2 separate regions of the Homo sapiens genome follow, and region 2 is linked to region 1. The links come from fine-mapping of genetic effects on gene expression. Tissue or cell type: lung. Region 1 holds a variant in brackets; the other region holds the start of a gene. All regions are shown on one strand. Distances are between the middles of the regions. Region 1 overlaps ANGPT4 (angiopoietin 4). Region 2 holds the start of ANGPT4 (angiopoietin 4).

Region 1 (5,370 bases):
TTTCCTTCAAGACCCTTTGCAAATGCCCTCTCCCCAGCAAGGAGCAGGGTGTGCTGACCCATGACCCAGATCTGTAAAGTGGGGCTCAGAGAAACACAGTAGTCTCCAAGGGCCCACAATGAAAGTGTGGCAGAGCCAGAACTCAAACCCAGGGCCAAGGGGATGGGGCAGTAGACCAGGGACCAAAACTCAGTCTCTTTGCCAGCTGGAAGGGTGACAAAAGGTCAGGCCTTTGTACCCCATCATAGGCCTGAGAATTCGGCAGCCTGAGAGTGATGGAGAAGGGGCAGGTCTAATCCTGGAGTCGGTGCACGGCATAGAGAGAAGTAGATCCAAAAAAACAAGAGAAGTAGATCCCACGCTGGGTGAGTTCCTCCACTGGGATCCATTCCCTGCCCTTCCAGCTGGTGCCTCAGCCATGGGCCAGACCTAGCTCCCACCACCCAGGCCAATATTAGTCTCCAGAGCCCAGCCCAGCCTAACTGAGCCCATCTGGCCCAGATTATCCATCCCAGGGCCTGTGCTGGTGGGCGGGTGTGGCAAACTGGGTGATGGGATCCAGCTGTGGGTAACCTTTGCCCTGCCCAGCCACTTGCAACCACAGGACAAGTGGGGGACCAGTGAGGTGCTTGGGGAGCTCCAGTCACTTGAGGGGACCCTGAGCTGCCCTGAATCACCAGCTCAGCTCTGCAGCCCTCAGGCAAGGAGTCTTAGAGCCTAGCCTGCCAGATGGTGACCTTGGGCAAGACTTCTGGGCCTCAGTTTGTCTATGTTCAGGCAAATGAGAAGCTTGGGGAAGATGCCTGGGAAAGTCTCACCTCAGGCATGAATATGCTGTTTGACTACTTGGAGCAGGTGCTCAGTACCTGGATGTCTGCTTTTTAATTTAGGTTCTAGGAGGTCAATGATGCATGAAAAAGTCTGAGACCAAACTCGATACAGCTATATTTGTCCTCATCCATGCTGGTGGGCCCAGCCAGCCACACATTAGAATCTCCTGGGAGCTCACATGCAGTCCATGACTAAGATTTACCACGGACCCCCGGACCAGCCTGCTAGCCCATGCTCTGATGTTAATGACATCGAAGGCACCCCTCCCGAGGAAATCTCAACTGCACCACCCCTACTACTCCCTAATTCAGCAGGAAGCAGTTAGTGCGGTCATCAGCTGACCTCCCCAACAGCACTTGGGTTTTCCTGTTGAGAGGGGGACTGAGAGACAGGGCTAGCTGGATTTCCTAGGCCAACTTAGAATCCCTAAGCCTAGCTGGGAAGGTGACCGCATCCACCTTTAAACACGGGGCTTGCAACTTAGCTCACACCCAACCAATCAGAGAGCTCACTAAAATGCTAATTAGGCAAAAATGGGAGGTAAAGAAATAGCCAATCATCTATTGCCTGAGAGCACAGTGGGAGAGACAAGGATTGGCATATAAACCCAGGCATTCGAGCCAGCAACAGCAACCCCCTTTGGGTCCCCTCCCTTTGTATGGGAGCTCTGTTTTCACTCTATTTCATGCTATTAAATCTTGCAACTGCAAAAAAAAAAAAGAATCTCCTGGGAGCTGACAGAGGGGTTAAAGACAGGAAGGCACAAAAGGCAGACCCATGGAGAGGAGGGCAGCCTGGCCCAGAATAAGGCGAGTAAACAGATTTGAAATCCAAATTGGGATCACAGTGGGCAGTACTTACTAGTGGGTTGAGTGTGGCCGCTAAGAAAAAGAGAAGTTAAGATTGAGGTCTGGGTTTGGGGCTTCAGAACTGGGTGGAGCCATTTCCTGAGATGGGAAAGATTTCGAAGCATGGGGTGGGAGTTACAGGGACAGGGGCGATGGGAGCTGAGGAATGAAGAGTTTCACACTGGGCTTGAGATGCTCATTGGAAACCATGCAGAGATGGCGAGTTGGGGACATGCAGGGGAGAAGTCTGGGTGGGAGATGGTGATGGCTCCATTAGCACAGAGGGATGTGGAAGTCCAAAGACCGATCTCAGCCCCTGGGGCAGGGCCCTGATGCATTTGGATCCTCAGACCTCTTGGCATCTGGTCCTGGTGAAGCTTAATAATCCTTTCTCAGAAATGCATAAAATCAAAGCATAAGAACACTCAGTAATATGGAAATCATAAGCAAAATATGAAAAATAAAATCTGTGATCAGGCATAGCATTATCCAGTGGTGGGTGTGATGTCTATAATTCCAAAGTCCCGGTGAGTAAAAACAATGTTTTAAGATACCGTAAGAGTGTGTTGTGATATGAAAATATTTGGGATTTCTATTGGTAATGACTCTCAGGACCTGCTAGTATGGCTGTGGTTTGTGACCTAGGCTCATAATTGAAGGAAATGCCAAATTTTAATTGCAGATTAGTGGACAAAAAATGTGATCTTTTTTTCTCACTCAAGTTCATGGAGCCTGTGGCTTCTTCATTAAGGACCCCTGACCTAGAGAGTGAATGTACATAGAGACAAGGACCCAGGACTGGGCCATGGGGGCCCTGCCGTGTAGGAGTCTGTAAAGGAGGAGTCAGAGAGTGGGTGGTTAGGGGCTAGGAGGAAACCAGGATTGGGGGGAAGTCGTCCAGCAACAGGGAGTGGCCATCCAGGTGATTGCTCCTGAGATGTCAAGCAAGATGGAGTGTCCCTTGAGGGCAGTGTCAAGGAGGGCTATCTATGACAAGGTGAATTAAAGAGCGAAGGGGGGAACTGCGCGTGGTGGTGCTCGCCTGTCGTCCCAGCTATTTGGGAGGTGGGAGGATTGTTTGAAGCCAGTAGTTTCAGGCTGCAGTGAGCCGTGATCACATCACTGCACTCCAGCCTGGGCAACAGTGAGACGCCAAAAGGCAAAGGGACCTCCCAGGATGGAGAGACATGACTGGAGGTATACAGGAGGATGAGCACTATGGGCTATATTTATTCTCTATACTTTTTTTTTTTTTTTGAGACACGGTCTCACTCTGTTACCCAGGCTGGAGTGCAGTGGTGCATCTCAGCTCACCGCAACCTCCACCTCCCAGGCTCCAG[C/T]GATCCTCCTGCCTCAGTCTCCTGGGTAGCTAAGACCACAGGCTTATGCCACCATGGCTGGCTAATTTTTGTATTTTTAGTAGAGATGGAGTTTCACCATGTTGCCCAGGCTGGTCTCAAACTCCTGGGCTCAAATGATCCACTCTCCTTAGCCTTCCAAAGTACTGGGATTATAGGTGTGAGCCACCGCACCTGGCCTCTATGCTTTTTTGTATGTGTGAAACGTAACATCATTTTATTATTAACGTTATGTTGTTGTTGTTGTTTTTTAAGTGAGGGTGGGTATGAAGGTGAGAAAATGGAGACAACTTGTAGAAGTTTTGTGTTGATGAGATCAGAGAAACTGGAGAAGCAGCCAGAGAGGCTGTGGAGTTAGTTTTTAGATGGAAGCTGTTAGCGCATGTTTGTGTGCTGCAGGGAGGGGGTGGGCTGATGATGCAGGGAAAGAAGGAGGGGGGTCTCTCTGGTCTTCAGTCCCTGCTGCTACTCTGCATCAAGGGCTCTCACACTTGAGCAGGCATCTGACTCAGCCAGGGGTGTTGTTAACCACAGTTGGCTGGGCACCATTAAGAGTTTCTGGTTCAGGAGGTCTGCGGTGGGACCTGGAAATTCACATTTTTAATGAGCTCAGCTGATGCTGACGGAAGAACCACACTTGGAGAAACACAGCTCTAACCAGTACTACTACCGCCCACAAGCACCCGCTCCAGGATGTGATAATGGAACTTGCTCCCTTTGAAACACTCCAGGGTGAGGAAGGGATGGGAGTGAACAGTCAAGATGGAAGAAGGGAGAAGAGATGAAGGAGGAAGTGGCTGGAGCCTGGCCCGAGCCAAGGTCACCACCTCTCCTGGGGAGCACCCATCTTCCCAAGGACCCTGAGAGCTGTCCAGCTGGCTTCTGAAAGACTGAGTGAGAGGGCAAGGGAAGGAGCCAGGGACAGGGGTGGGGGGCATGGTGAGAGGCCAGCATGTGTGCCGAATGGAGAGGCAATGGTGGAGGGGAGCTGGCTCTCTGCCTGCAGGCACCGAGCCCTGAGAACACACTGTTCACCTTTACAACAGCATACTGGTGTCATGCCAGACCAGCTCTCCTGCCCTTGGGAAAGAGAGCAGCCCTGTCAAAGAAATGAACATTTGCATGTGGGATCCCAGAACATCAGAGCTGGGAGAACCCTTGGAGACTGGCCAGTCCAGCCCCATTTGGCAGATAGAGGGGATCTGAAGATAGAAAACACAGCTTGGCCAATGGACCTGCAAACTCTTTGTACAAGGGAGAGATGCATTCCCACTCCCTGCTGGCTGACTCACCCTGAGGAAGCTGGTGAAGGGGCATGTGATTGGGCGCTGTGCTCTGACCCTTGCTGTTTCCCCTTTTTCATCAATTCATTGAACGCGCATTTATGAGCACTCACTGTGCACCATGCATTGTGCTAAACATAGAAACAAGGCAGTGAGCAAAACCAAGTCCCTGGCTTCATGGAATTGACATTCTAGAGAGAGAAACAGACAACAGACAGATAAAAAGAGAGATAGTGATTTTAAAAAGTCAGGTGGTGATAAGTGGTATGAAGAAAGCTGAAACAGCATGAGGAGGTGTGCCACGCAGATGCGGATCAGGGTTGGGGGAGGATTCCAGAGGGAACAGTGAGGGAACAGCTGTGGGCACATGCTTGCTTCGTTAGAGGGATGTCATGGAGCCATTGCATCGGGATTGAAGTGAGTGAGGGAGAGGGGAATAGGAGAGGAATGAGAGTGTGGTGGCAGGCCCAGTCACGGAGGAACCTGCAGTCATGGCTTTTCCTCTGCGTGAGATAGGAACCCTGGAAAGATTTTGAGCAAAGGAGGAGTGTGACTTGACTTAGGTTTAGCAGGATCCCTCTGGCTGCCTAGTGGGGGATGGACTGTGCAGGGGACAAAGATGGAAGCAGAGAGGCAGACAAAACAGGCATATAAATCCCTCCCAGGGAAAAATCTACTGGGATAGTCCAGGCAAGACGTAATGGTGGCCTGACCTGGCCCGGCATGTTCTGAGCCAGGGAGGCCTCAAGTGGCTGCTCAGTGCCCTCCCATGGTGACACGTGGGAGGGACAGGGGGCTTCCCCCGCCCCTCCCCCGTGACCCCAGCCCATGGTCTCCCACAGCTAGAGAGGGCCATCAAGACGATCTTGAGGTCGAAGCTGGAGCAGGTCCAGCAGCAAATGGCCCAGAATCAGACGGCCCCCATGCTAGAGCTGGGCACCAGCCTCCTGAACCAGACCACTGCCCAGATCCGCAAGCTGACCGACATGGAGGCTCAGGTAACAGAGGGTGACTGAGTGGGCACTGAGGGCCTGTGGCTGGCCAGGCTGG
Region 2 (5,370 bases), 23 kb before region 1:
GTGGGGTGTCTTAGCCCATTCAGGTTGCTATAACAAAATGCACTAAGCTGGGGGGCTTATAAACAACAGAAACTTATTTCTCACAGTTCTGGAGGCTGGGAATTCCAAGATCAAGGCACCAGCCGATCTGGTGTCTGGTGAGAGCTCCCTGCTTCATAGACGGTGCTTTCTTACTGCAACGTCACCTAGCAAAAGGGAAGGCCAGCTGTCTAGGACATGTTTGATAGGAGCGTTAATCTCATTCCCAAGGCAGAGTCCTCACGAGCTATTCACTCCCAAAGGCCCCACCTTCTAATACCATCACCTTGTTGACTAAGTTTCAATAGATCAATTTGGGGGCACACAAACATTCATATCATAGCAGGGAGTAATGATGACAGCTGTCACTGGTTGAGCATGTATTATGTGAAAGGCTCTGTGTTAACCTCACTGCAGGAATCGGTCTTTTAGCCACTGTAACATCACTATTTTGACAGAAGAGGAAACTGAGAGACAGGTTAGGCAACTTGGCAAAAGGCACACAAATAGGGGGTCAGGAAAGCCAAGATTCCGATCCAGATGTGCTGGCTCCAGCATTCTGAGTAGTGAAGAGGTGACAGAGGGGGAAATATCTAAAGGATCATGTTGGAAGAACAGGTCTGATTGGATGGTAAGGTCAGGAGCAGAGTGAGGGATGAGGGAAGCCTCATGTTTCCCAGGCAGGGCCTGCTACCTAATTTGTGGAACTCAATGAAGAATGCAAGTGCTGAGTACTTTGTTCCAAATGTATTAAGAATTTCAAGACAGTGCTGGCAGAGTGTAAACCAAGCATGGGGCCCATCTAAGCTTGGGGCCTGGTGTAACTGCCTCGTTGGGATTATCAAGCAGCTCAGTCAAGACAATCATAATGACGACCACCATTCACACTGCCCTTCTCTGCACCCAGAGCTGTGATAAGCTATCAGTCCACATTACTCTCACATGGTCAGGGTGCTATGACCCCATTTACAGCTGAGGCAACTGGGGCCAAGCGGGGCACGCAGAGCTCAGAGCATGTGGGAAGGCTCAGGGGAGGCTGGAGGCTGATAACCAGCTGCTTTTCCTTTGCCTGCAAAAGCCCCACACCTGGTATAATGTTCTCAGTCCCCAGATGAGACCACAGTTCACAGCTGCCCAGAAGCAGCCTGCCCCAATTCAAAACTCTATCGGGATTTGAGAGAACAAAAAGGAAAATACTAAACAGCCAGACTGGCCCCTACTCTGAGGAAACAAGCAGGGAGAGAGGAAAAGCCCAAACAGCTGGCAGAACATAAAGGCAGCCCATGCAGGAAAGGCCCCACCAACTCCTGGGCACCTTCTGCCTGGAGACCATGTCCCCCAGGGACAAATCCCTGCCCTAGAGGAGTTTATGCTCCAGTGGGTCGTGGGAGGGGAGGTGCAATGACAACTATAACATTGACAACGGAAAATATTTATTTAGTGCTCGCTCTGTGCCAACCTTGCTCTAACTCACCTAATTTTCATGCCATGTGAAGTAGGTGGTATTATTTTCCTCATTCAGGAGGAAATGAAGGCACAGAGAGGTTAAGTGACTTACTCAAAGTCATACAGCTGGTAGATGGTAGAGCCAGGATTTGAACCCAGAAGCTGAAAACTTCTCCATCCCCATGCTGAGGACTCACACGCATTCCTCCTGCAAGAGATAAGGTTTACCCAGTTTACAGATCAGGGTGTGGAGGCCCAGAGAGGCACAGCTGCCCACCCTAGGTCTCGTGGCCAGCTGTCGGGGAGCGAGATCTAGGGTTAGCCTCCTGGCACTCCAACCTCCTCTCCCCACTGCCTCCTCTCCACATCCCCACTCCAGCAGCCCCAGGACAATCTGCCCCAGGACATGACAACTTCTCATTACTGTTACAAGCAACCAAGCCAGGGCCATCCTGGGGCATACCACTTTCCCCTGGCCCTGAGGGAGAAGAGAGGACAGGAAGCAACTCCCAGCTGGGTTGCTCACTTGCCCCACCTTGGAAGGATTTTCTGTGTCTCCAGAGGCAAAGTGGATTCGCTGGGCCCTCCCCAGCCTCACCCCTCTGCCTCCTCCCCTCCCTCTGCTCTCTCCGGGGGTCACTTGTACTCCAAGCGCTAACATGGAACCAGAGGGAGGAAGGTGCAGCGGGGAGAGAAGGGGATGGCAGCGGGACTGAAACTTGAGATCTTAGACTTGGGGGGCAGGGGATGGGGGTGGAGGGAAAGAGGGAGACCAAGACAGAGACAGGAAGGGAGAGTTAAGTTGCATTTGGTTTTCCAAAGCGGGCAGCATTGGAGCTTGGCGTTTGTGTGTACATGAATGTGTGTGCGTGTCAGCGTGCGTGTGAGTGTGTGCTCGTGAGTGTGTGCATGAGTGTGTGCGCGTGTCTGTGTGCTGTTTTCTTCCCTCCCCTCCAGCAGGGAAGCCAGGCCTCACTGGATAATCAGAGGGCTCAGAGGTGAGGCAGACAGAGCAAGGTTGGTGCACGCTTAGGGTAAGGGCGACGTGCCACCAAGACTGAGGAAGGAGGAAGGGAAGGAGTGAAGAATAGAGGTGAGAGGGTGTCGGGTGGGGCCGGAGGGAGGCGGTGAGAGGAAGCAAGCAGAGCAGCCGTGGTATTCAGAGCAAGTATAAATAGCTGCCTGGACAGAGCTCGGCCAGACAGAGGTTTGTAGCTGCAGCTGCAGGCAAGCCTGGCCACTGTTGGCTGCAGCAGGACATCCCAGGCACAGCCCCTAGGGCTCTGAGCAGACATCCCTCGCCATTGACACATCTTCAGATGCTCTCCCAGCTAGCCATGCTGCAGGGCAGCCTCCTCCTTGTGGTTGCCACCATGTCTGTGGCTCAACAGACAAGGCAGGAGGCGGATAGGGGCTGCGAGACACTTGTAGTCCAGCACGGCCACTGTAGCTACACCTTCTTGCTGCCCAAGTCTGAGCCCTGCCCTCCGGGGCCTGAGGTCTCCAGGGACTCCAACACCCTCCAGAGAGAATCACTGGCCAACCCACTGCACCTGGGGAAGTTGCCCACCCAGCAGGTGAAACAGCTGGAGCAGGCACTGCAGAACAACACGCAGTGGCTGAAGAAGGTACGGGGCATGGGAGGTTTGCAGGGGGCAGAGGGCGGCTTTGGGGTCTGTCACAATCAGCAGGTGGAGTGTCCATCCAAGAGGCCTTCCCTGAGCACAGAGGGCTGTCTCTGAGCTGCACAAAGAGGGGCAGGGGTGGGTCTGAGGCCACACAGCAAGATTGGGCAATGTCAGCTGGCAACCTGGCTCTTTAACTGCCGTCCCTTCATTCATCCAACAGAAATCCATTCAGCCCTGACCAAGGGCTGAACGGACCAAGCCTTCCTGGGTGCTGGGGATACGACAGTATAGTATGTCTCCCTCTGGACTAGTAGGGGAAAGAGGCAGTAAGAGATAATCTACTATGTCAGATGGTGAAGCAAAATGAAGAAGAAAGAGGGCAAGTGGCGGCCCTGGGTGGCTGCTTGAGGTCAGATCATTAGAGAGTACTTCTCAGAGGAGGTGACATTTGAACCCAGAGAACAAGGGAAATGATAGAGTGGGCCAGGCAGGTATTTGAGGGAACGTTCTGCAAAGGGAGCTGCATGTATTTTGACCGTGAGGAGGGAATGCATCCGCAGCGGTGTGTGCCTGGAGAACCATGGGGCGAAGGCCTGTGTAGCTGGAGCAGAGGAGAGGGAGCAAGGGTGCGGGGAGGTCTGAGAGGTGACAGCAGGGCAGGCCATGCAGCTGGGGGGGGGGCCACTGGAAGGACTTCAGCTTTTGTTCTGAGTGTCATGGGAGCCACTGCAAGGTTGTGAGCAGAGACAGACACCCGTGATTCGATTTCAACAGCATAGACTGTAGGAGGCAGGGTGGAAGGAAGAAGCCCAAAGAGGTGGCCGCTGCAGCCATCAGGTGCAAGGTACCGGAGGCCTGGAGCAGAACGGGGCTAGGAGGGGGTGTGGCCAGTAAGATTCTGGTGGGTTCTGGAGGTAGAGCCCATCAGCTCTGCTGGTGAATTGGATGCGGAGTGGGAGGAAGCAAGGAGCTGAGGATGCCACTGTGGTTTTGGCCCAAGACCAGGGCTGCTGTAGAATGCCCTGTCATGCTTTCGTCTTTCAGCAGTGTGAGCACCTATTGTGTACCCTCGGAGAAGCACTGACTACAGAGGTGTGCAAAGCAGGCTTGGCCCTGGCGGGGCATGAGGGTACAGGAGACATCCTGGGGGGTCTGAGATGGGACTCTTCAGAGTCCCTAAGTGAGAGCTACCAAGGAAAGGGAGAGGGACCCAGGAGACAGTCTGGGCGATGACTGAGGAATGAAGGATGCGAACTAATTCCTGGAGTTTTAGAAGGTATTAAACAGCAGACAAGCTTGACAACCACCTCTGGCTCCAGGCAGGATAGCTGTCCTGGCTGCCCCCCTGGCTCCCTGCTAACACTCGGCCCCCACCTCCTGTTCTCCATGCAGCAGACCAAAGAATCCCCATCAAAACCTAAGTTACATCCTCTCCCTCCTCCCAGGGCTAACCATGCATCCGAATAAAAGCAAGAACCCTTACTCCCTGGAGTTCCCTCTCCCAGACTCCCACTTTGCTTACCCCAGCCTCCTATCCTCTCCAGCGCCATCTCCCCAGAGGCCCTCCTTGTCCTCCCCGTACGAAATAACCACCTTCCTCTTCCACCCTTTGTCCCTCTGCTGGCTTTGTTGTGTTTTTTTTTCTTAGAACTTATCCCTACCTAATGTTCTTAAAAACATTTCTTTTGGTGTGTGAGCTCCCAGAGGGCAGGCGCCATGTCTCTTTTGCTCACTTCTGGGTTCCCAGGGCCTAGAATAGTGCCGAACACACAGTAGGTACTCAATAAATGTCTGTAGCATGAGTGAATGCATGAATGCATAAATGTCCTTCCAATCTCTCAGGTCCCAGGTCTCCATCCTGCTCCGTGATGACACAAAATTGGCATTGATGGGATCCTGAGCCCAAAACCCATGACCTGGATCTCCCCCAACACCTCCCTGAGGGTCCATGGGTGTCTCAACTCCAAAGCTGCCTGAGACGACTCCCTGCTCTTCTCCAAACACCCTCCTCCTGCCTGTCTGTCTCTGTTTAGGGTGACACCACCACCCAGCCACAGGCTGTGCCCTGGGGGCTTCCTGTGGCTCCCACCTATCCCCCAGGCAGCTGGCCCAGCCCATCCTGTGGCCTAGGCTTCTCTCATGGTCCATCTTTCTGGCTTAGGCCTCGTCATCTTTCCCAGGATGCTGTCATCACCTCCCACTGGGCCTCCTACCCCAAGTCTCACCTCTCACTCTCATCCATCTTTGAATCCCCTGGGTGTCGGATGCTTGGGAAACA

The links. PIP is the estimated chance that this variant, and not a neighbour inherited with it, causes the effect.
Region 2: it holds the start of ANGPT4, and the variant in region 1 is fine-mapped to the expression of ANGPT4 in lung (TOPMed, PIP 0.91).

Annotation. Positions count from the first base shown.
Region 1 is chr20:890,161-895,530 of GRCh38, reverse strand. It overlaps ANGPT4 (angiopoietin 4), which reads left to right. Exons shown (of 9, transcript NM_015985.4): 2 at 5,163-5,318. Among named protein-coding and RNA genes, the nearest start is that of ANGPT4, 23 kb to the left of the region's middle. The variant C/T (reference allele first, on the strand shown) is at 3,020.
Region 2 is chr20:913,628-918,997 of GRCh38, reverse strand. It overlaps ANGPT4 (angiopoietin 4), which reads left to right and starts at 2,664. Exons shown (of 9, transcript NM_015985.4): 1 at 2,664-3,092. The coding sequence starts at 2,784. It overlaps LOC105372492 (a long non-coding RNA gene), which reads right to left. Exons shown (of 3, transcript XR_937185.3): 1 at 5,318-5,370; 2 at 1,577-1,672.